Linked DNA regions of Homo sapiens. The protein of the gene in region 1 interacts with the protein of each later gene in a pairwise test. Each region holds a gene or a part of one and is shown in the gene's direction. Other genes may lie near its edges. The genes, in order: ALX1 and IPO13.

Region 1 (3,823 bases):
GTTTTCCATAAATGAGAAAACAGAGGCTCAGACGTATCAGATGTATTTCCCGAAAGTCTCCTGCCTCTTTCTATTAAATTATTTTGTCTCATGGGAAAATCACTTACCACATCAAGATACAAGAAAAAGTAAAATCTGTGGATCCTTTTCTAACATAAATACATTTCTTTTTACGTAATTTTTTTAACCTGGTTTACCTTTCTTGTTTGATGTCTTTTAACATCACATTTGCTTTATCAAATATTCCTTAGCTAAAATTCTAATTTTTATTAAATAATTAGGTTTGGTTTCAAAATCGAAGGGCCAAATGGAGAAAAAGGGAACGTTATGGCCAAATACAACAAGCGAAAAGCCATTTTGCTGCCACCTATGATATATCAGTTTTGCCAAGGACTGACAGCTACCCACAGGTATGCTAAACTACACAGAATACTGATCAAGAAAAGGATATTTGGTTTGTATATTCTTAAAATGGTTAGCATAGGCTTTATTATATGTAAGATAATAGCCAAGAATGAAAATCTAAGCTTCAGAAAACATTCTTCATGTCTGCTAAGTTTTAATTTTTCTGAATTATTTTCTTGTTGTTTTCTTACAGAGTCATTCATTTAAAAATATTTCAGGGTATTTTTTTCTTTTGAATTTTGTTGTATATTGCCACCAATGAAATAGCATCATTTAATGATACAGGTATTTTAATTATCCTACATTCTAATTACTCAGACTCTCTTCCTTTTGTTAACTTTTAAAAATACTGTAAATAGAGTGTTGCTTAGCATGCAATCTCTGTGGATATTGTTTTATGAACTATACTAAAACCTGATGTCAAATGTGGCCTATTAAGCCCTTAACTCCATTTAAAAATGTGTCTCTTTTTCTATGTTTTTTTTTTTTCAGTTTTCAAATTGCTTATTCTCTAAAGGTCCACATTTGGTCCTGTTTGACTTAAAACAGAGATAGAATTAGTATCAGACATAATTTTAAAAGTTAATCACAGATGAGTAACAGCTTCCCTTTATAATGGGTGCTCTTTTACTTCATTACAAAAAGTGTTAGAAATTCTTTTTCTTCTCATTTTTCTTTTTCAATATAAGACTATATATTTCTTTTTCATATTTTGTAATGAATGTAAATGTTTGTCTTTCTAATTTATTTTGTGTCACTTTTTCCTAATACTTAATAATGATATTCAGAACTGTATTTGATACATGATGAAAAAAAACCTACGTTATAAGCAACGAGCTATGCATTATTTTGTTATTTATTATTTAATGATATGCATTATAAGAGACCCATGTGAAAACACATATGAAACATATATGCTGGAGAAATACCTTGATAGTTCACTAACTAGATGATCTGAACCCCAAACTTGAGTATTCATTTTCTTCAACACTATGAGTACAAATTCAGTTCTTTAATGTTGTTCTTTCCTTGTGTTCCTATGCCTTTTATGATTCTTAAAAACCAGTTTTAGAAACCTCACTCCTCCAGATAAATCCCCCAAATTTATTAATATAATATTATATGTTAAATAAAAGAAGTCTTGGAGGTCACCTTGTTCAACTCCTTCCTTTAAAAAAGTTATGAAAACGGGCTCAATTGAGTTAAGGAATTGGTTTGTGATCATACAAGTGGGTTCCTGCAGGAGAGACTGTAAAGGTCGCTACGTCTAAACCTTTACCCAATGGCTTGCTAGAAGACTATTCTTATGGATACCTTTTCAATAAATGCCTCCTATCTCCTTGCCATAGGAGGAATCTTGTTTCTCTTTTAAAATTTATCTTAAAGAGGTTACCTTATGTTTTCTCCTATTTTAAAGCATGAGGCTACCTCTGGTGGTTACTTACCATCATAGGGCTAGTCAAATTTTGTTTGCCAAATATTTTTGAGTGCCTTAGTTGAGTCAGTGTGAGTTAGTTTGAGTGCCGTTAGTTTCTAAACAAAATTCTGTAAAAATCTTTCCCCTCTAGGCTGCAAGCTCCATGAGGACAGGGACTGCAGTGTCTTCATGGTTATTAACACTACAGTAGCCCTCACTGTATATCTGGGCACTGTTCTAAGCAGATTACATATATTATCTCATTTAATCCTCACAACAACCTTATGTGCTAGGTGTTACTAATTGTCTCCATTGCTCAAATGAGAAAGAGGTAAGGTGAAGTTCAGATTTGACCAGAGACAATTTGGTTCCCACTTGCCAGATTTTAACCTGACAATAGACTGTCTCTACCTGTGAATATATTTAAATGATACCAAAGGAGCATAAAGTTTGAGCTGCATTATTGTAAGTCTGCGCTTTAGTGTCAGGAGCCACAACCAGAGAAATAACAATAAAAATATAGGTGAAATGGAGAATGGTTTATATCATTTTGAACTACTTGACTGTGGTGACTTTAGACGTAATAAAGTAACAAATTATGAGCTCTTCACATGGATTTTAAACTCTTACTAAGTATATTCCACAACACTTGACTATGACTACTTTTTTGTGCATTTTATTCTTTCAGTCTTCATTTCCTTTCAAACCCCATTTCTGTCTGTTTTCAACTTTTCTGTCCCTGTACGTTGGTTGTTTTATATTTGACTCTTCTTGCTTCTTTGATAAAGCAATCAGAATAGGGCCTAGCATCAATTAAGACCTATATAAAGGGTAAAGCATTCAGAATAGTGCATATTCTGAATCTAAAACTTTATACAGCTTTAAGACATGTATAAATGCTCAATATGACTCAGTGTACTCTGAGTAACCATCTCATTTCCCTAAGATTATCTTACCATTGTGTTATTGTACCTCAAAGCTTTATATATTATTAATTAAAAGAATGAGGTAACCTAGACACCGATGGAGGAACGGACATGGTACACCAAATTATATATTTGATCATCTTTTTCACTCCAATGAAAAATTAATTTAAAAAATTTCCCCCCACAAATCATGGGAATGTTGCACTAATTATTCCTCATAATTTTGTATACATTGGCTATACCACCTGATAATTTAAGAATGGAGAACATATGTTGGAATTACTTCAACAGTGCCAATCATGAATAATAATAAAAATTAATACCATGAAGTCCATAGTACTTTCTTGTATTGGTAAATCATTTAATGTTTGGTTACCAAAATTTCCGAAATTATGTGGCTGCAACTCCCCACTGTAGATACTGGATAAAGCCGGGGGAATTTTTATTTTAACTTAAATATATACAAGATACTTTTTTAGTTTGTTTGAAAAAATAATTGGGCCAAGATCATGTCTCTCAAGAGTTAGCCTAAATGAAATGTTTTTTTTATCATGGGGCTTGAAAATAGGAACTTGTAATGGGAGAAATAGAAACAGAAGTAGAATCCAATATCTCAGTCTAATAAGACATTGGATTTGGTGACTGTTAATTACAGAAAAAATTATTAATTTCAGAAAAGTTGGAAACTAGAAAATGTTAGAGGCAGGACAGAAATAAAGAATTAGCAATTTGGCAGAAAGAAAAGCCATACATAGAAATACATGAAAAACAGAGATAGTTTAGAAAATGATCTCCTCAAGCCTGCTCAGTATGTACAAGCATAATATGTTTATTTCTATATAGTAATTAATACTTTCTAATATGTTCTAATAAATACTTTGTTTCAACTGGCCGTCTTTTTACTATAGTAGCAACAGCTGTAACAGTAAAAATAATTACTAATAATTGGGGGCATATTTAAAGCCAGACACTGTGCTTCCTTCTTGTATCTATTAACCTGTTTAATTTAAGCTCAGGTTTTCTGAGCTCAGGAGCCCAAAGATCTTTATGTAACATTATCTCTTTAATTCATCAC
Region 2 (3,823 bases), on another chromosome or scaffold:
CTGTATACCAGCAGGTGTACCGGCCAGTCTACTTCCAGCTGGTGGATGTGCTTCTGCACAAGGCCCAGTTCCCTTCTGATGAGGAATATGGATTCTGGTCCTCAGACGAGAAGGAGCAGTTCCGAATTTACAGGTGATGGTAGCAGGCCAACTCCTCTAAAATGGAGTCCAGAAATAATGAAGGCAATGAGGGAAGGGGCCCAAGTCCAGGCTTTCTGAATTTTGGTGCTCCTTTCTGTTTTCTAGGTATTGTTGCAGAGTTGTGGGGGTACTGGGGTAGGCTCCTGGGCTTGGGGGCAGGATCCAGGGTCAGGATCCAGGCAGTATAAAAGGCCTTCATCTGCTTCTCAGGGTGGACATCTCAGACACGCTCATGTATGTCTATGAGATGTTGGGGGCCGAGCTGCTCAGCAACCTCTATGACAAGCTGGGTCGTTTGCTCACCAGCTCAGAGGAGCCCTACTCCTGGCAGGTACCTCCCAAGCCTGATTCCCTCAGCCTTCCCAGACCTGTCACACCCTCCTCCTCATCCAAGCCAGTGGCACCCTCTTTCCCCAGCACACAGAGGCCCTCCTCTACGGCTTCCAATCCATCGCAGAGACCATTGACGTCAACTATTCTGATGTGGTGCCTGGGCTCATTGGCCTCATCCCACGGATCAGCATCAGCAACGTGCAGCTGGCAGACACTGTCATGTTCACCATTGGTGAGACCTGGCACACACCCATGACCATATTCCCAGAGCCACAGCACCCAACCCTGGCCACAGCCAGCATGCTGGATCCTATCCAGAATGGGAGAGCCACATGCCTACACACAATCAGTGTTGTAACAAACTGACTGTCCTGGCAGGTCTAGGGGGTCCATCTGATGGCACACTGAGCTGCAATTCAGTGAGGCTAGTTTACCGTCAGTGAAACAGCAGTACTGGGCCTCTGTTGAGTAACCCCTTCCTGCTTCTCAGCTGTAAGGCTCATGTTTGAGCATGCACATGCATATGTCCTCTGAATGGGGCAGTACTCTGTGCTGGGGCTGCAACTTGACCCTGCCAGGAACTCTGCTTGCCTCAGAGACATGGTACAAAGCCAGCCTGGCCTGCCTCAAAGATCCTCCTGTCTCCCTCCTTCCTCCAGGAGCTCTGTCTGAATGGCTGGCTGACCACCCCGTCATGATCAACAGTGTTCTGCCCTTGGTACTGCATGCCCTAGGCAATCCTGAGCTGTCTGTCTCTTCTGTGTCCACCCTCAAGAAGATCTGCCGAGAGTGCAAGTATGACCTGCCTCCCTATGCTGCCAACATTGTGGCTGTGTCCCAGGTATGCAGGGGCCCTGGATGGTGCTGGGCCTCAGAGCACACTCTGCACTGTGCTGATACTACATTCCTTCTTTCTCCCCTCAGGATGTGCTGATGAAACAGATCCACAAGGTGCGGCTCAAAAGTTTCTAGGGGTCTCCTTGGAGGTCTTGTGGGAATCACTTATCCCTGAAATCCTGTTTTTTGGCCTTCCCCTTCCTCTTATCCCTTATTCTCTGTTTTTCTTCTCCCAAGAGGCTCATTTTCCTTCCTACCCCACAACTAGATGTGGCCAGGACTGACCATCCATGTTCTGCCCCACAGACAAGCCAGTGCATGTGGCTGATGCAGGCGCTGGGCTTCCTGCTGTCAGCTCTTCAAGTGGAGGAGATCCTTAAGAACCTGCACTCGCTTATCTCACCCTATATCCAGCAACTGGAGAAGCTGGCAGAGGAGATAGTGAGTGAGCTCTGGGGGCCAGGGAGCGGTACTGAGATGCTGTGGCTGATGAGGGGTGAGGTTGGAGCTGGCCCTCAGAGCTGAGGCTCAGTGATCTGGGGACCAAACTGGGGCTGGGAGATCTGGAGCTTGGTTTGCTTCTCCCTGCAGCCCAATCCCTCCAACAAGCTGGCCATTGTTCACATCTTGGGGCTTCTCTCCAACCTCTTCACCACACTGGACATCAGTCATCATGAGGATGATCATGAAGGCCCTGAGCTTCGGAAGCTGCCAGTGCCACAGGGACCCAACCCCGTGGGTGACATTTGCCCACGGCAAAGACATTTGTCTTTGCCATCCCCCCAACCCCCACCTGTGGGAATGTCATTGTCACTCTTCAATTCTGTGGGTAATGTTGTCATTGTTCTCCCTGCCCCGTGGGCGTGATATATTTGGTCCTCTGACTCCATGAATGACCTATAATTGCCTCACTCTGTAGGCAGCAATGTCATTATCTCACTCAGCTCTGTGTGTGATGTTGTCCTTGTCCCCAGCCCAATTAGGGTGATGTCATTGAGATTCCTCAGCCCCATGAGGGACATTGACGTTATATCCTTCAACCCTTAAGTGATTTTATGGGCCCCTGTTCAACCCCTAGCTCTGTAGGGCCTTCTACTTCAACATTTACTGTCCCCTGTGGGCACTAAGGATGCTCATTACCTCCTCCGCATGTAATAGTTCTGGCCTTCAAGTTGCTCCCAGTGTAGAGGAAATTCAGGTTGCTCAAATTGTCACAAAGCAGTGTGATAAGTCCTGTGGTAAGCTTGGGCATAGGTTTTGGGGTGACCACTTACAAGCTGCTTGATCTGGGGCAAGCCTCAGCTTCCCATTAAAAACTATGAACATTGAAATGTCTGGCTTACTCAATTCATAGAACTGTGCTGGATAGTAGATGTGGTCTTAAGTGAAGGTAGTTTGCATATTGTAAAGTTCTTTACAAATATAAGGGACTGCTTTAGTCGTTGTTCCCAGAACTCCCTCCCAGATTTCTCCAGGAGAAAAGGAAGCCATAGGCATCCTGGCCTCTCTGCTTAACTCCCCAACCCAGTTTCAGTTAGCCTCTTGGCTTTAGACCACCCCTGGGCCACTGTCATCCCACAGAGCTGCTTCTTTACATGGTAGTCATCATCCTGCCTTTCCTCACCTCCCAGGACCTCAGTCTGCTCTCTGCTCCTCCATAAGCTGGGAGAGCAGCTTAAGCCTGCATCTGTGCATTCCTTGGGGCTCCCTACCTCAAGCCTATTTGGAGGAGATAGCATCTCCACTTCTTCAGAGGCTAGCCCATAGCCTTGGTTTTACAGAGCAGAGATAGGGAGAGATTTTTTTTTAAGTTTACAAAGTTTTTGTAACCTTATGAAGCACTTGTGATATCTCTGCTTTGCAGTTTGAGGCTTCCTTTGAGATGATCCCTAGAATTCAGGAAATACTCCTTTTTCATTCATGAGAGAGTTCAGCAAACCACTTCTTCCCCCAGGGGTCCCATGCCCTGGGTCCTCAATGTGTGTTCTGGGGTAATAGGTCTGAACTGCTCCCCTCCTCCCTGCCACCAAGTCCTCCTCAAGTGGGTCACAGTGATGGATAGCAGAAGCGCCTCACTTCTTCCTGTGCCTTCAGGTGGTGGTGGTGCTGCAGCAGGTCTTCCAGCTTATCCAGAAGGTGCTGAGCAAATGGTTGAATGATGCCCAGGTTGTGGAGGTGAGCCCTGACCCTTGCCCTCCGCTCCCATAGTGACTGCTCAGAGGTGTAGCAGGGTAAGATGTTACTGCCACACTTCAGCTTACAATGGTTTGGAGAAAACAAGGGAGGTGAATCCTGCCCCATAGAGATAAGGAATCTTTTGGGAAGACATTTAGAACTCCCCAATATCATGAGAAGTGCTTAACGTAAGGACTCTAATATTAGGGTCGAGTGACAGTCAGGCATCTGTTTTAGCACCAAAGACCTGCCTTTGGTCCCTTTTCAATTCAGGTTTTTGTTGCTGTTGCTGCTCCCTGAGAGGAAATGTTAGAGATGTAAGTCGCAGGAGTTAAGT

Evidence for each region.
Region 2: the proteins of ALX1 (region 1) and IPO13 interact in a two-hybrid assay, tested with the Homo sapiens proteins (one large-scale study listed by BioGRID and IntAct).

Annotation. Positions count from the first base shown.
Region 1 is NC_000012.12:85,286,572-85,290,394, forward strand, and holds part of ALX1 (ALX homeobox protein 1), read left to right. Parts: intron 1-281; coding exon 282-410; intron 411-3,823. UniProt on the Homo sapiens protein: Sequence-specific DNA-binding transcription factor that binds palindromic sequences within promoters and may activate or repress the transcription of a subset of genes.
Region 2 is NC_000001.11:43,956,844-43,960,666, forward strand, and holds part of IPO13 (importin-13), read left to right. Parts: coding exon 1-133; intron 134-351; coding exon 352-472; intron 473-558; coding exon 559-706; intron 707-1,133; coding exon 1,134-1,315; intron 1,316-1,398; coding exon 1,399-1,425; intron 1,426-1,617; coding exon 1,618-1,752; intron 1,753-1,902; coding exon 1,903-2,046; intron 2,047-3,405; coding exon 3,406-3,486; intron 3,487-3,823. UniProt on the Homo sapiens protein: Functions in nuclear protein import as nuclear transport receptor. Serves as receptor for nuclear localization signals (NLS) in cargo substrates.